Linked DNA regions of Homo sapiens: region 1 is linked to region 2. The links come from fine-mapping of genetic effects on gene expression. Tissue or cell type: whole blood. Region 2 holds a variant in brackets; the other region holds the start of a gene. All regions are shown on one strand. Distances are between the middles of the regions.

The links. PIP is the estimated chance that this variant, and not a neighbour inherited with it, causes the effect.
Region 1: ASB3 starts here. The variant in region 2 is fine-mapped to the expression of ASB3 in whole blood (TOPMed, PIP above 0.99).

Annotation. Positions count from the first base shown.
Region 1 is chr2:53,782,173-53,790,277 of GRCh38, forward strand. ASB3 (ankyrin repeat and SOCS box containing 3) reads right to left here and starts at 4,781. Exons shown (of 10, transcript NM_016115.5): 1 at 4,649-4,781. The region is part of intron 1 of GPR75-ASB3 (GPR75-ASB3 readthrough); the gene reads right to left. ERLEC1 (endoplasmic reticulum lectin 1) reads left to right here and starts at 4,872. Exons shown (of 14, transcript NM_015701.5): 1 at 4,872-5,200. The coding sequence starts at 5,039. RefSeq lists enhancers at 4,271-4,929, 4,445-4,864.
Region 2 is chr2:53,752,335-53,760,439 of GRCh38, forward strand. All of the region lies in intron 2 of ASB3 (ankyrin repeat and SOCS box containing 3), which reads right to left. All of the region lies in intron 2 of GPR75-ASB3 (GPR75-ASB3 readthrough), which reads right to left. Among named protein-coding and RNA genes, the nearest start is that of CHAC2, 11 kb to the right of the region's middle. The variant C/G (reference allele first, on the strand shown) is at 4,537.

The DNA of each region.
Region 1 (8,105 bases), 30 kb after region 2:
TCTCAAAAACAAACAAACAAACAAAAAAACAATGGATTACTCACTCTATGCAAGGCAAACTAAGCACATACATTTTCCTCCGCTTCCTAACAAAATCGCACTGAAATGCACTCATTCATTCTGGAAGAGAAAGCAGGTAGGATTATGCTGAGGATTAAGCCAGTGCAGAGAAAACTGCAGTCCAGAACACACACACATGCATACATGAGAAGGCTATAGCAATGTAGAAGACATTCTTGCCAGCAGAGCCTGGAGAGGTACCAATCTTAGAAACAAGCAGAGGAAGGACGTAGGACTAAAATCAGAATTATTATAATATTTATATGAAACAGCAAGCCAAACTTTTTACCACAGCCCTTTACACACAAAACGCCTGGCAGCAACAGTATTTGTTTCTGGCTAAAACCACATCTATTTTGTTGTTATTGCTCTTTTTAATTTAACAGTCTACCCTGGAAGCCTTTGAGCATCTTCATGTTCCATAACAAAGCATTCCTTATTTGGGTACAGGGTGGAAGGAGAGGAGGAAAGAGGCAACTCGTTTCTTGCACTTCACTCAAGGACCCTAAAGTTAGACCCAACAGCTAGTACCCTGCTCACTTACAAAAGAGCTCAATAATTTTTTTTTTTTTAGATGAAGTTTCACTTTTGTCATCCAGGCTGGAGTGCAATGGCGCAATCTCGGCTCACTGCAACCTCCGCCTCCCAGGTTTAAGTGATTCTCCTGCCCCAGCCTCTTGAGTAGCTGGGATTACAGAAGCCTGCCAAGACTTCCGGCTAATTTTTTTATTTTCGGAGAGACAGGGTTTCACCATGTTGGCCAGGCTGGTCTTGACCTTCCAGACCTCAGGTGATCTCTCAAAGTGCTGGAATTACCGGTGTGAGCCACTATGCCCCGCCAAGAATTTTTTTTTTTGAAGTAAAAGCACAACAGACAGAAAGGATGAAAATAAACAACTGACCTGAAAGAAGCAGAGCTATTTCCGGGAATGGGACATAAATATTTAAAAGTTATAAGTGTTATCCTCAAAGAAATTCATGTCATGAGAACAATGCATCCATTAAAAATAACTAGATGACTAGAAACTGTGGGGAAAAAACCACTGAAAAAAGAAAGTGAAAAGAACTGAAAATCAAGGAAATGGACCTCTTGGATTGATCCTTCGTATTATGTATTTTTTCTTTTTATATTTTTCCTCTGTATTTGGAAGAATCTATCTAAATGTATTTGGAAGAACCTATCTAAATTCTGAATAGAACAGAGAAAATGTCAAGAACATAATTAAAGAAATAATTGAAGAAAATTTCCCAGAAGTGAAAAATAGGATTCATAGAGTGCCAAGAAGGATGAATGAAAAAAGATTCACCACCTAGAAACACTGATAAAATATCACAGAACCAATGATAAAGAAAACAGTCTAATAAAATCTTCCAGAGAAAAAAGTATGATACCTGCAAAAGAAAGAGACTGGCATTAGACTTGTCATCAGATACACTAGACACAAAAAGCAAGAGAATGTCTTCAGAGTTTTGAAGAAAACAAAATGATTGTGGACTAAGTCTATTCCCAAGCTATCATTAAATGAGCAGGCAAGGTAAAGGCATTTTCAGACATATGAAGTCTGTGGAAATTAAATTACCTGTTTAATCCTTCCTGAAAAAAATTGCTTGAAATTAGTTATACCCCTACAAGGTGGGAAAAAAATCTATGACAAATGAGGACATGGAATACATAAAGCAGTAGACCTAACCCAGGCATGATACAAAAAAATCTCAGTAAACAGGTATGCAACTGACTTGTAAAGCAACTAGTCTAAATTACATGTGTGAGAGCTGGAAATACAGCTTCAGGAGCAAAATGAGTTTATTTTAGCAAACATGGTGCCATTATTAGGAAGCTAATAGGATACCTTAATTGGCAGAGGTAGAATTACATTTTTTCTCTGCAGATGCAATCATACTTAATAGTTTTATAGCGAATGATGATTGTATAATTACAATATGGTAAATAGTTGATAAGTTTTCAATGTTTAAGAATCAACCTATAAATAAAGCATAAAAGACTTGTACTGATTGATGTCCTGTGGCTCCTTAAAATGTGTAAAACCCAAGTGTAGCCCGACCACTTTGGGCACATGCTGTCAGGACCTCCTGAGGCTGTCTGTGACACGTCCTTAACCTTGGCAAAATAAACTTCTAAACTGGTTGAGACTTGTCTCAACTACTTTTTGGTTTTCATCCTCTATTACCTTCCTGAGGCTGCTGTAACAAATGACCACAAACTGAGCAGCTTAGACAGCATAAATTGATTGTCTCACAATTCTAGAAACTAGAGGTCAGAAATCAAGATGTCAGCAGGGCTATTCTCTCTCTCTGAAAGCTCTAAAGAAGGATTCTTCCTTGCCTCTTCCTAGCTTGTGGTGATTACTGGCAATCTTTAGCATTCCTTGTCTTATAGACACATACTGCAATCTTGCTGCCTCCTCCTTCCTGGCATGGCATTCTCCCTGTGTGTCCATGTGTATCCAAATTTCCCTCTTCTTATAAAGATACCAGTCACCAGATTAGGGCCCCCTTTGATTCAGTATGACCTCATCCTTACTTGAATTATATTTGCAAAGACCCTATCCCAAGTAGTTCACACTCACAGGTTCTAGGGGATAGGACTTAAACATGTCTTTTTGGGGAACACAATTCAACCCACAACACCCCCTACAATCAATTTTCCACACAGCAGCCACAATGATCTTCACAAATGTACATCGGGTCCTGTCCACTCTCCTGCCTACAGAGCTGTCTCCCTGGCCTCTTTCTGCTTCTCAAACTTCTTCTACCACTTTCCTCTTACACTCCAGCCACACTGGCCTTCTTTCTATCACTCCAACACATCAAGCTCATTCCTGCCTCAGGGCCTCTGCCTAGAAATTTGTCTGGCTCCCTTCTTTTCATCATTCAAGTCACAATTCAAATGTCACTTCCTCACAGAAGTCTCCTCTGACTTACGTACTAAAAGCAACACATCCTACAGGTATTGTCTTTCACATAACCTTAGTTTCTTTGCAGCACTTACCAATACTAGAAATTATTTTACTTATTTAAGTTCCCCTCTTACTTGAACATCAGCTCTATTGAACACAGATTCAATCACTATAGCCCTAAATGCTAAAACAGGACCTCACAGACAGTTTTCATTTTTATTCCGTCAAATACATCTCTTTTCCTTCATGACTTAAGACTAGTGCTTAGCACAGAATAAATGCTAAAAAAAAAAAAAATTGACTATTACTACTATAATAGTTTGCAATTATTTGTTTGTACAATCTCCCTGCCTAGACTGTGTGACCAAAGACAGAAACCCATTTATTTGGCATTTTACCAAGCCCAGGGGGGCCAGGCACAGTGGCTCAGGCCTGTAATCCCAGCACTTTGGAAGGCCGAGGAGGGCGGATCACCCGAGGTCAGGAGTTCGAGACCAGCCTGGCCAACGTGGTGAAACCCTGCCTCTACTAAAAATACAAAAATTAGGGTGTAGCGGCGCGCGCCTGTAATCCCAACTACTCGGAAGGCTGAGAAAAAGGAGAATCCCTTGAACTCCAGAGGCGGAGGTTGCAGTGAGCCAAGATTATGCCTCTGCACTCCAGCCTGGGTGACAGAGCGAGACTTTGTCTCAAAACAAACAACAACAACAAAAATCCCAGGAGTCTGGATCACATTAAGCATTAATAAGAAGTGCTGAATATAATTAGCGAATAACAATTCTGAAGAAAGTTATCTTCTTTGATACTATGGATTCCTGATGTTAAAAAAAAATTTTTAAGATAGAATATGGGACTGTCCTTCCTGCTTTTTGATTTGGTTCAAATCTGAGGAAGTGGGGGCGACCAGTCTTTAACAGATCTAGCAAGACTGTCGAGCTTTAGGGAATGGTAATTTCTCTAAAGCCAACACTCTATGTCCATTATATTGGAGATCAAAACAGACAATGGCATTTTTTCTAAAGAGGGGGAGGGAAAAACAAAACTTTTTGTCTAATTTGGGGATGCAGTCAGACGTGACTTAGTTCATAAACACACACATTCATCTGGCGCTAAACCTCACATAAGGAACCTTACCAGCTTCCTTGATAAAACAACACCCCAACACTTCAATCTAGAGATGGAGGGTAAAAATGTAGGGTTGTGATGTCTAGCTGCCCATTCCACGAGAGTCGCCCACCACGCCAAATTCGGAGGCTTGCGGTATTCACCTACGGGGAGATGGCGGGCTACCTCACCCCAGGTTTCCCCTAACACAGAGTTGCAGTCGCTGAACAAACTGCCCTGCGTTAGTCAGAAGCTGTTAAGTAACGAGATGGCCACGGTCCACAGCAGAAGAGATGGAGATAAGCCTCAAGCGGGAAAAATGAAGTGTACAAATGCCAAATGCGGAGAAAAAGAAGAAAAGCTGCAAGAAGGCAGGTCAGTCAGGAACACCGCCATTTCTCACATCTCATCGCTACTTCGAATTTTCTCATCTAAGGACCCGCACCCGCACGGTTCACACTGTCTTCTTCCCGCTATCACTCCGTGTGGGTCAAACCTCTGCCTGCCCACTGGAGAGCAGCGGGAATGGCTTCAGGAAGCGGCTGCCGCCTCCGAGACTCACCGACCTGCCGTGCTGCCACTTCTACACCGAAATGGCTGGTCCGAGGCCGCGTCTCCAGAGCTGCGTCCCAGAAGCCCCCGCTTTCGATCCCCACCGCGATGCTGCAGCCGTCCGAAAACGAGAGACGCGCAGGCGACGTCCCGGCCCCCGTAGGCGGACGGCTCCGCGACCCCCGGATGTTGATATGTCGTCTGCCCCGGAAACGGTGACAGGAGGCTCAAGGGGGCGGAGGCGGCGTTGCCGGGCTCTCCGGAAGGAGACGTGGCGGCGGTTGGGCCGGTGATACCCGGGCGCTTTATAGTCCCGCCGCCTCCTCCTCCACCTCCTCCTCCTCCTCCTCTCCTCCTGGAGCAGAGGAGGTTGTGGCGGTGGCTGGAGAAAGCGGCGGCGGAGGATGGAGGAAGGAGGCGGCGGCGTACGGAGTCTGGTCCCGGGCGGGCCGGTGTTACTGGTCCTCTGCGGCCTCCTGGAGGCGTCCGGCGGCGGCCGAGCCCTTCCTCAACTCAGCGATGACATCCCTTTCCGAGTCAACTGGCCCGGCACCGAGTTCTCTCTGGTCAGTGCCCTCACTAACCCCGCAGCCACCCCTCCTCCTGACACTAAGGGTTCGGCCTCTTCCCTCGGTTTTCTTTGCTTTTTCTCCCCAAGACCTTCTCTGCAGACTCTTACCTTCCCCAAGCCAAAGCTGCTTTTATGCAGCGTTCATTCATTCGTTCGTTCTCACGTTATGTGGATGCGTCCCCCTTGCTGAGCATTAGGGATCCAGCAATCACCTGCTCTCCACCTTTTCAATTCTGTCGCACTAGACCTTGCTTCCCAACATTCCCACCCTGCAGAAGCAGCTTTCGTAGAATAACGTCAGGTGCACTTACTCATCTTCCTTTCGGAAAATTAACTGTGGCTCTTACTTCACCAGCAGACTTCTTTCCTTCAGTATTACATGTCACCCTGCCCACACCACAGTACTTCAGACTCGAGTTCCCTCTCTCGTATTCGTTCTCCCTCAGTTGTATACACACACGGACATACGCAAACGCACAGCTCCAAGGGAACTTTTTCCTTTCCTAGTTGTTTCTGAGAGGGCTATTTGGCCTGTGAGATGTTAACGACCCTTTATGCAGAATATCCTTTACAGTTTTCATGTATTACGACTGTTATTTGAGTCCCCAGAACATGAGCTTCTATGTTGAGTTTTCCTGTAGTGAAGAACATTTGTAACCTCGCGGAAATGAAAATTCCCTCTTGGGGGAGTGGACCGCTGAAAAGTCTTCCTGTCCACGTGTACCTACTGCAGGCTAATAAATATTGTACTCTTATGACACTTACCATGTAGTAATTAACTCATTTACTTCAAATTGAAGTCCCGGAAAAAGCAAAATTTTTTTAAACTTTTTATTCCAATTACCTTCAAGCATTCAACTTGCAATACTTTATTATATTCTTTCATTACCATTTCATTGAAACAGTAAGTGACACTATGATGTCAAAACAAGATGTGTCAAGTTAATGGATGTTATTACCACATAGCTTTCTATTTGCAAGTGTTAGGGGTTTTTTGGTTTGGTTTGGTTTGGTTTGGGTTTTTCTGTTTTTGTTTGTTTTTTGAGACAGGGTCTCAGTCTGTTGCCCATTCTGAAGTGCAGTGGTACGGTCACCACTGGCTGCAGCCTCGACCTCCTGGGCTCAAGAGATCTCCTCAGCTTCCCAGTAGCTGGGACTATAGGGAAATCCCACCACTCCTGGCTAATTTTTTTTTTTTTTTCTAGAGGCAGGGTCTCACTATGTTGCCTAGGCTGGTCTCGAACTCCTGGGCTCAAGCAATCCTCGTGCCTGAGCCTCCCAGAATACTGGGATTACATGTGTGAACCAAATGTTCTGAATTTATCTAGGTAAATATTTTTCTGGGACGTCAAATTTCTCTTTGTATTAATGCCACAAAATATTGATACATTGAAATACCTATGTAAAATTTTGTTATGAATCAGATATAACTTTAGCAGGCTTGGAAGAGAATACTTTAATACCTGTTGTTGTATCCAAAGAGCACACTTGGAGTGAATATGGCAGATGTTTGAAGAATTATGTCATTAAAATTTTTTACTCTTGGCACCTGTGTTTTTTTTAATTTAAAAAAACTTGCTGATATGCAGCCCTGAAAACTTACTATAAGCGAGCGACTAAAACTAGCATTTTTAGAGGTCACTACCAAATTGTCATTCCATTTTCTTTCAGTCTTAGCATTTGCTACACCAACTTTTCACGTATCTAACAATTTTATTTCAAAAAAAAAATGCTTTGGCCATGTGCGGCGGCTCACATCTGTAATCCCAGCACTTTGGGAGGCAGAGGCAGGCGGATTATGAGGTCAGGAATTCAAGACAAGCCTGACCAACGTGGTGAAACCCCATCTCTACTAAAAACACAAAAATTAGCTGGGCGTGGTGGTGCACACCAGTGCTCCCAGCTACTTGGGAGGCCGAGGCAGGAGAATCGCTTAAACCCGGGAGGTGGAGGTTGCACTGAGCCAAGATTGCACCACTGCACTCCAGCCTGGGTGACAGAGTGAGACTCTGTCTCAAAAAAAAAAAAAAAAAAAAAAATTCTTTTTTTAGAAGCTGGAGTGCAGTAGGTATTTATAGGCATGATTATGCTCACTACAGCCTCAAACTCCTGGGCTCAAGCCATCCTTCTGCCTCAGCCTCCTGAACAGCGAGGACTACAGGTGGTCACCATTGCATCTGGCTTTTTTTTCTTTAAGTCTGTGCTACTTTGAGAAAAATCTAGAGTGTTCTGTGAATTGTCACAAGGCCTATGTCCTTTATGTAAAAATAAGCCACAATAGTCATTATCATTGGTCTTTTGATTTTTTTTAATACTTCTATAACCTTAAGGCTTCCCTTTGCATTTAACTGAAATTACTGGCTGGGCACAGTGGCTGACGCCTATAATCCCAACATTTTGGGAGGCCGAGCTGGGTGGATTACTTGAGCCCAGGAGTTTGAGACTAGCCTAGGCAACATGGCGAAACCTTGTCTCTACTAAAAATAAAAAAATTAGCCGGGCATGGTGGCACATGTCTGTAGTTCCAGCTACTTGGGAGGCTGAGGCAGGAGAATCGCTTGAACCTTGGAGGCAGAAGTTGCAGTGATCCGAGATCATGCCACTGCACTCCATCCTGGGCGACAGAGGAGTCTGTCTCAAAAAAAAAAAAAAAAGAAAAGAAAAGAAACCACTACTCTCCTCACCTGGCGCTGCCATTTTTTTTAATGGGCCAGTTGGTTGGACATTTGTGTTTGTGACAGAGTCTCGCTCTGTCACCCAGGCTAGAGTACAATGGCGCCATCTCAGCTTACTGCAACTTCTGCCTCCCGGGTTCAAGCGATTCTTGTTGCCCAGCCTCCCCAGTAGCTGGGATTGTAAGCGTGCGCTACCACACCTGGCTAATTTTTTTTTGTATTTTT
Region 2 (8,105 bases):
AGGTGAGGAGAGCAGAATTTATTAAAGGAAAGCTCCCAGCTAAAAAAGGGGGTCCTGCCAACAGGTTCCCACCCCACAGATTGAATACCAGACCACCACACATGAGCTGAAGAGGCCAGGCTCCTCCCCACTGCATAAGGTGAGAATTCCCAGTGGCTTCACCCCATTCTTCCAGTGCACAGGCAGCCCCTTATTCTGAGCCACTCCACATTGATTTATTTCCCTTTCTGTGCACGTGTTAAGGCACGGAATTTTTCGCCCCCATGGGCATGTTTAGGCAAGCCCCCTGTGCACAATGACCTGGGCAGCATTTGGCTGTCTCCTCTCTCTATCAGTAGGGCAGGTAAGAGTAACAAATAATTTAGAAAAATGAACAACACAAGCATTGAAGCGTGCCTAGACTTACTATATATTAAACCATGTCTTAAAGTTAGAAAAAGTGAAGTAATGTGCTCCTGGTACAAATGCAGAAAGGAAGGTACCCATCAGGGAAAGGAATCAACAGAAGCAGTAAGAGACTAAGAAAGATGGTCACTAAAAGGTCAGAGACCTAGACCGATGTTACATTACAGAAGCCAAGGAACTTTCTCTTGTAAAGTAGAAAAGATGTTCTCCTCCACTTAAAAAGAAAAAAAAGACATAAAGTTTAATCCTGACCATTTAAATATTATGCCTTACAGCAGAAAGAGTGAACCTTAATGTACGCAATTTAAAAAAAAAAAATCAACCAGGAGGTAAAAGGAAGGGTGATCCTAGGATAGCATGCAGACTGTGACAAAAGAATCTAATTGAATTACAAATATATGTCATAACCACACTGAGAGATAGAGAAAAAAGACACTGGTCTACATAACTTTGATAAATGATGCTATGACTGAAAACTGTAAGACTAAAGACAAAAAGAACTGCACATAAACACTATAGTCTAGTTGGTAAAGTTGTTTCTAGGAGTAGAGATTAACAATTCTGAAACCACTCTACATGAATACTAAGAACAAACAAATAAATAAACAGATGGCAGATCTGGGGGCCAGGTTTCTTACTGTTGGAGAGGAAGGTTACATATAAGGAAAGAGGGAAGGCTAGAATGAACCATGTGTTCTGGAGTAGAGTCCAGACATCAGTATGAATTCATGTTTAGCTTAATATAGATACAGATGGCTAGACACGGAAACAACTATAGATGTATATATACATGGGTTATAATATATAAATATATGTTCTAGATCTGTCTGCTGAAAGGGCTTAAAATCAATGACAGTCCAGTAGCAACAAGCACACCCAGTCCTCAGATCTTGGTTTTCTCTCTTTCTTTCTGTTTTTTTTTTTTGAGACAGTGTTGCCCAGGATGGAGTGCAGTGGCGTGATCTCAGCTCACTGCAACCTCCACCTCCCAGGTTCAAGCGATTCTCCTGCTTCAGCCTCCCGAGTAGCTGGGATTATAGGCGCACCACCACACCTGGGTAATTTTTTGTATTTTTTTTTTAGTAGAGACATGTTTTTGCCATGTTGGCCAGGCTGGTCTCAAACTCCTGGCCTCAGGTGATCTGCCCGACTTGGCCTCCCAAAGTGCTGAGATTACAGGCGTGAGCCACCATGCCTGGCCTTACATCTTGGTTTTCACTATCATTCTCCCGTAAAAGAAACCAGCACTCTTATGAAAATGGCTGATTCTAAGGCTGAGGTGGGAAACATACAAAGAGTCGGAGCACACTGTAGGTCCAAAAAGTAAAACGTGCTCAAAAAACAAACAATGGGGGCATGCAAAAGAGACAATAGGAGCCACTCTGAAAGGGCATCCTATGACCAAAACAATATGAGCAACAAAATAAATTACATTGTATTGGATTGTAACCTAAAGTACAGGTATAAAATAAGTAACAATGAGTTCATGCAGATATAAATGACTAAATATATAAATTAACGGGAGAGAAGAGATAAATCTCCCATGTAGAAGAATTCCAAATAATTTATGTAAAGACTACTCCATCAAGGAAGTAGAGTTTAATTCCCACTTCTGGAGTGCAAGCCACCCTTAGTGACTTGCATACACACTCATCTTGGGAAAAGGAAATAAAATCTCCTGTGTGATTATATATGAAGTAAAGAAAATAAAAGGCACTTCTCACACAGGTGAGAAATACTGAAGTCAATTTACTACTAACTTGAGATCTTGAAATATTTTACCTATAGAAAAAAATATATTAAGCTAACTTTAAAATCACTGGACCAGGAAGATAACATTTGAAGTTGGATTGAGGCTGCAACTTTGACTCTGCTAGAAATAATATGGGTTATACTTCGGGCCAATTACTTAAACCTCTCTGAGGCTCAGGTTCCATAACAGTGAAACGAGGATAAATTAGCTGGACCAACTCTCAATAGGGTTCAATAGAATTAGGTATATAGTCTGAATTTTTGTAAAATACAAATGCAGATAGATATGCAATTTAAGTACTGTCAAAGTTGTTACACATTTGGTAAAGTCTCCAAAGTATCATTTTAAGAAAATTTTCACCACCCACTATAAATTAGTTTTGAAAGTTCCAAAGATAAACTGCTTTCCTTAAACTGATACATGAGTTTTAGCAAAGGGATCTTATCTACCTTGTACTGGACCATCAACCACCACCTTCTCACTCTCTTCCCTTCTCTACAGGGGTGCTTCTTGAAAAAGAAATGGCTCATCCTATTCACTGTTTTTAATGCTTTAATCTCTCCTTACCCTCAAAGGAAGGCAAAGTGGCTTCTCCTTCTCAACTTATTGAAACTTTAAATGGTGTGGGTATTAAAGACATTCTTAATGGACAAACACAATGAGCACTTCAGGTCTTTCACAACTTGTGAGTTATTTCCTGGGAATACTTGGAGAATTAGAGCCACCTCAGCTGAACCAATGCCAGCCACTGACGCCTGTGTAGCAATGACAAGAGTTGGCCCAAACACTGCCAATGGAACCACACCCTATGTTTACTGACACAAAGTGTCTTTTTACTTATGAATAATAAACTTGTCTATTACTTCTTATAAAAGTGGTAGTAATGGGTGATAGACCGTTCTTTTTGTTTTCTGCAAACTCTAACAGGGAAAGTCAAACCACAAGGTTTTCAGTAGAGGAGATAGGTTAAGTATTAAGACCAGAATATTTCTCAACAGCTGAGCCAGAATTTGATGACAAATTTACTATGTGCCAATCACAAGTGTAATAAATGTCAAGATTATATCGCCACACCATTTACACAATTTATATCATCTTACTATGTTTTATTTAGGTATTATAAGAAAAGGTTATATATAAAATAATTTCCACAATGCAAGGAATTGTATTATGTGCAAACTTCTCAGACAACCCTCAGCAGAGACTTCATAATGCACACAAGATGCATGGAAGAAGTCAGTGAAGAGGAAGAGGTTGAAAGGCATTACAAAGAAAGTAGACACTGTTAAGAAAAGTGACGAGAAAATACCCGAAACACATATAACACCGAAGGATTAATATCCAGAATACATAAAGAGCTCTTTAAAGATAAGGCAAGGCCTAATGCAGTGGCTCATGCCTGTAATCCCAGCACTTTGGGAGGCCAAGGAAGGAGTATCACTTGAGGCCAGGAGTTTTGAGACCAACCTGGACAAAATAGTAAGACCCCCCCCCCACCTCTACAAAATATAGAAAATAAAAAAATTAGCCTGATGTGATGGCATATGTCTGCGGTCCCAGTTATTCCAGAGACTGAGATGGGAGGATCACTTGAGCCCAAGAGTTGGAGGCTGCAATGAGCCATGATCACACCACTGTACTCCAGCTTGAGCAACAGAGTAAGACCCCATCTCTTTAAAAAAATTTTTTTAATTAAAAAAATAAAAATAAGGTAAGTCTAGAACTTCCAAAGGGAAATCCTGCCTGTCTAACGACATCATTCTAATAGTAGAATCCAGCAGTCTCTGAAGAGACCCATCACTCAGATTTACATTTACTTGAGCTACTATATTCCCTTTCTTTGCTTAAGCTAGTTTGAACTAGGTTTCTTTCACTCAGTACTGAAAGAATCCTGATTAACATAGCATACAATTTAGCAGTATCTATAAATATTTTAACTTGGCATGGTGATGGTTAATTTTACATGTCAACTTGACTGGGTTAAGGGATGCCCAGATAGCTGCTAAAACATTTCTGGGTATATCCATGAAGATGTTTCAGGAAGACATTACCATTTGAATCAGCAGACTGAATAAACAAGACTTGCCCTCACCAATGTGGGCAGGCATCATGTAATCCTTCAAGGACCTAAAAGAAAAAAAAGGCAGGGAACCCCCTTTGGGTCCCCTCCCATTGTATGGGAGCTCTGTTTTCACTCTATTAAATCTTGCAACTGCACACTCTCTGGTCCGTGTTTGTTCCAGTTCAAACTGAGCTTTCACTCACCGTCCACCACTGCTGATCACCGTCGTCGCAGACCCGCTGTTGACTTCTACCCCTCCGATCTGGCAGGGTGTCCACTGCACTTCTGATCCAGCGAGGCGGCGCCCATTGCCACT[C/G]CCAGTCGGGCTAGAGGCTCACCATTGTTCCTGCACAGGCTAAGTGCCTGGGGTTCATCCTAATCGAGCTGAACAGAGCTGTAACACTCACCGCATGACCCAAGATTCCATTCCTTGGAATCCGTGAGGTCAAGAACCCGAGGTCAGAGAACAAGAGGCTTGCCACCATCTTGGAAGCAGCCTACCACCATCTTAGGAGCTCTAAGAACAAGGACCCCCCAGTAACATTTTGGTGACCACAAAGGGACCTCAAAAGCGGTGAGTAATATTGGACCACTTTCACTTGCTATTCTGTCCTATCCTTCCTTAGAATTGGAGGAAAATACCGGGCACCTGTCAGCCAGTTAAAAATAATTAGTGTGGCTGCCAGACTTAAGACTCAGGTGTGAGGCTATCTGGGAAAGGGCTTTCTAACAACGTCCAACCCTTCTGGGTTGGGAGCGTTGGTCTGCCTGGAACCAGCTTCTGCTTTCAATTTTCCTGGGGAGGCCGAGGGCCGACTAGAGGCAGAAAGCTGTCGTCCCGAACTCCCGGCGTTAGCTGGTTGAGATCATGGCGCAGCCGAAGTCTCTACTCAACAGTCGCCCGTGCATGCACCCCTACCTTTCCTTCTGACCCATACCTCCTGGGTCCCGACCATGACTTTCTTGAAAGTGTAGCCCAAAATTCTCCTTACTTCTGAATCTACTTCCTCCGATCCCTGCCTCCTAGGTACTAATGGTTCAGACTTCATTTCCTCTCCCAAGTATTAGAGCAAGTTGTATCTCCAAAGGGATCTAAGGAAGTTCTATGCTGTGTCCTTAGGTACCTAGGCTATGAACCCAGGGAATCTTGTCCCTGGTGTCCCAGTTTAGATATACAGCTCTCAACATGGGCAGTTATGTGGGACCCATTCCCCACCACCCTTGCCAGGGCCCCAAGTTTGTAAATGGCTAGGAGGATTGCTCTCTCATCATGTAAGATGCTCTCCTCCCCTGATTTTTACCCAGCTTATCCCTCTGCAATACAATCTCCAAGCCTTGGCTCCTTGGCCAGGGCCTTGAAACTCATGACCCAGTACTTTAACAACTGGAACTGGGTCTATGACAACATAATAGATCAGGATGAAAGCGAATTAAGTAACTCAAGGAGAGAAGAGACAGAGAGAGAGAGAAAAGAGAGGGAGAGAGAGAAAAAGAGAGATAGAAGTAGTAAAGAAAAAACAGTGCACCCTATTCCTTTAAAAGCCAGGGTAAATTTAAAACCTATAATTGATAACTGAAGGTCTTCTCTGTGACCCTATAACACTCCAATACTACCTTGTTGTCAGTGTAAACAAGGGCGTAGCCTGAAAACACTGAGACCACTGACAACACATAGCCTTCCTATCAAAAATCCTTAACCCAGTAACCCACGGAAAAAGGCACATGGGATAAACAGGATCCATCTCTCAAATTTCATACCGGCAAGGACTTAATCCGGGGCAACAAAAAGTTTAAGATTGATAATTAGGGCGTATTCCTACAAGGGAAAAGGACAAAGGCCCTAGTGGGCAAAAACTCTACCTCAATCCTAACTCAAAAGGTTACCTACACCCTCTCTGAAAAGAATTTGCATAAGAACTGTTGTTTATGGGAACGCATCTTGATGGGGCAGCTGGGTTGTTATAAAATACTCAGGAACCCAGCCCAGCTCTAGAACTCACCCTTGAGCGCAAAGGCAATATTGGGCATGCTGGTAAAGGACCACTAGAATCCAGCAGCCCGGACCCCTTTCTTTGTGGTCAAGAAAGGTGGGAAAAGGGGTGCAGGACTGCTACATTGGTGAGTGTAACTAATCCGATAAGCAGAGGTCCATGGGTAGTTGTACACCCTGGAAAGGAATAAGCACTAGGACCACAGAGGACGCTCTAGTCCTCTGGGATAATGCTCATTGGAAAATGACTAGAGGTGCTGGCATCCCTATGTTCTTTTTTCAGATGGGACATGTTCCCCACAAGGCAAAAACGCCCCTAAGATATATTCTGGAGAATTCGGCCCAGAGTGTATGTACCTTTTTCCCTGTCAGACTTGAAGCAAATTAAAATAGACCTAGGTAAATTATCAGATAACCCTGATGGCTATATTGATGTTTTACAAGGGTTAGAACAATGCTTTTATCGGACATAGACAGATATAATGTTGCTGCTAGATCAGACGCTAACCACAAAAGAGAGAAGTGCCACCATAACTGCAGCCAGAGAGTTTGGCAATCTCTGGTATCTCAGTCAGGTCAATGATAGGATGACAACAGAAGAAAGAGAACAATTCTCCACAGGCCAGGAGGCAGTTCCCAGTGTAGACCCTCACTGGGACGCAAAATCAGAACATGGAGATTGGTGCCGCAGACATTTGCTAACTTGCGTGCAAGAAGGCTAAGGAAAACTAGGAGGAAGACTATGAATTATTCAATGATGTCCACTATAACACAGGAAAAGGAAGAAAAATCCTACCGCCTTTCTGGAGACACTAAGGGAGGCTTTGAGAAAGCATACCTCTCTGTCGCATGACTCTATTGAGGGCCAACTAATCTTAAAGGATAAGTTTATCACTCAGTCAGCTGCAGACATTAGAACAAAACTTCAAAAGTCCGCCTTAGGCCCGGAGCAAAACTTAGAAACCCTACTGAACTTGGCAACCTCAGTTTTTTATAATAAAGATCAGGAGGAGCAGGCAGAACGGGATAAACGGGATAAGAAAAAGGCCACCACTTTAGTCATGGTCTTCAGGCAAATGGACTTTGAAGGCTCTGGAACAGGGAAAGGCTGGGCAAATCGAATGCCTAACAGGGATTGCTTCCAGTATGGTTTACAAGGACACTTTAAAAAAGATTGTCCGAATAGAAATAAGCCTCCCCCTCGTCCATGCCCCTTATGTCAAGGGAATCATTGGAAGGCCCACTGCCCCAGGGGACGAAGGTCCTCTGAGTCAGAAGCCACTAACCAGATGATACAGCAGCAGGACTGAGGGTGTCCGGGGCAAGCACCAGCCCACGCCATCACCCTCACAGAGCCCCGGGTATGCTTGATCATTGAGGGCCAGGAGGTTAACTGTCTCCTGGACACTGGCGCAGCTGTCTCAGTCTTACTCTCCTGTCCTGGACAACTGTCCTCCAGATCTGTCACTATCTGAGGGGATCCTAGGACAGGCAGTCACTATATACTTCTCCCAGCCACTAAGTTGTGACTGGCGAACTTTACTCTTTTCACATGTCTTTCTAATTATGCCTGAAAGCCCCACTCCTTTGTTAGGGAGAGACATCCTAGGAAAAGCAGGGGCCGTTATACACTAGAATTAGGAGAAGGAAAAAGGGTAAATATATATAAAGACTCTAAGTATGCTTACCTAACTCTCCATGCCCATGCAACAATATGGAGAGAAAGGGAATTCCTAACTTCCGAGGGAATACCTATCAAACATCAGGAAGACATTAGGAGATTATTTTTGGCTCTACAGAAACCTAAAGAGGTGGCAGTTTTACACTGCCAGGGTCACCAGAAAGAAAAGAAAAGAAGTAGAAGGGAACCGCCAAGCAGATATTGAAGCCAAAAG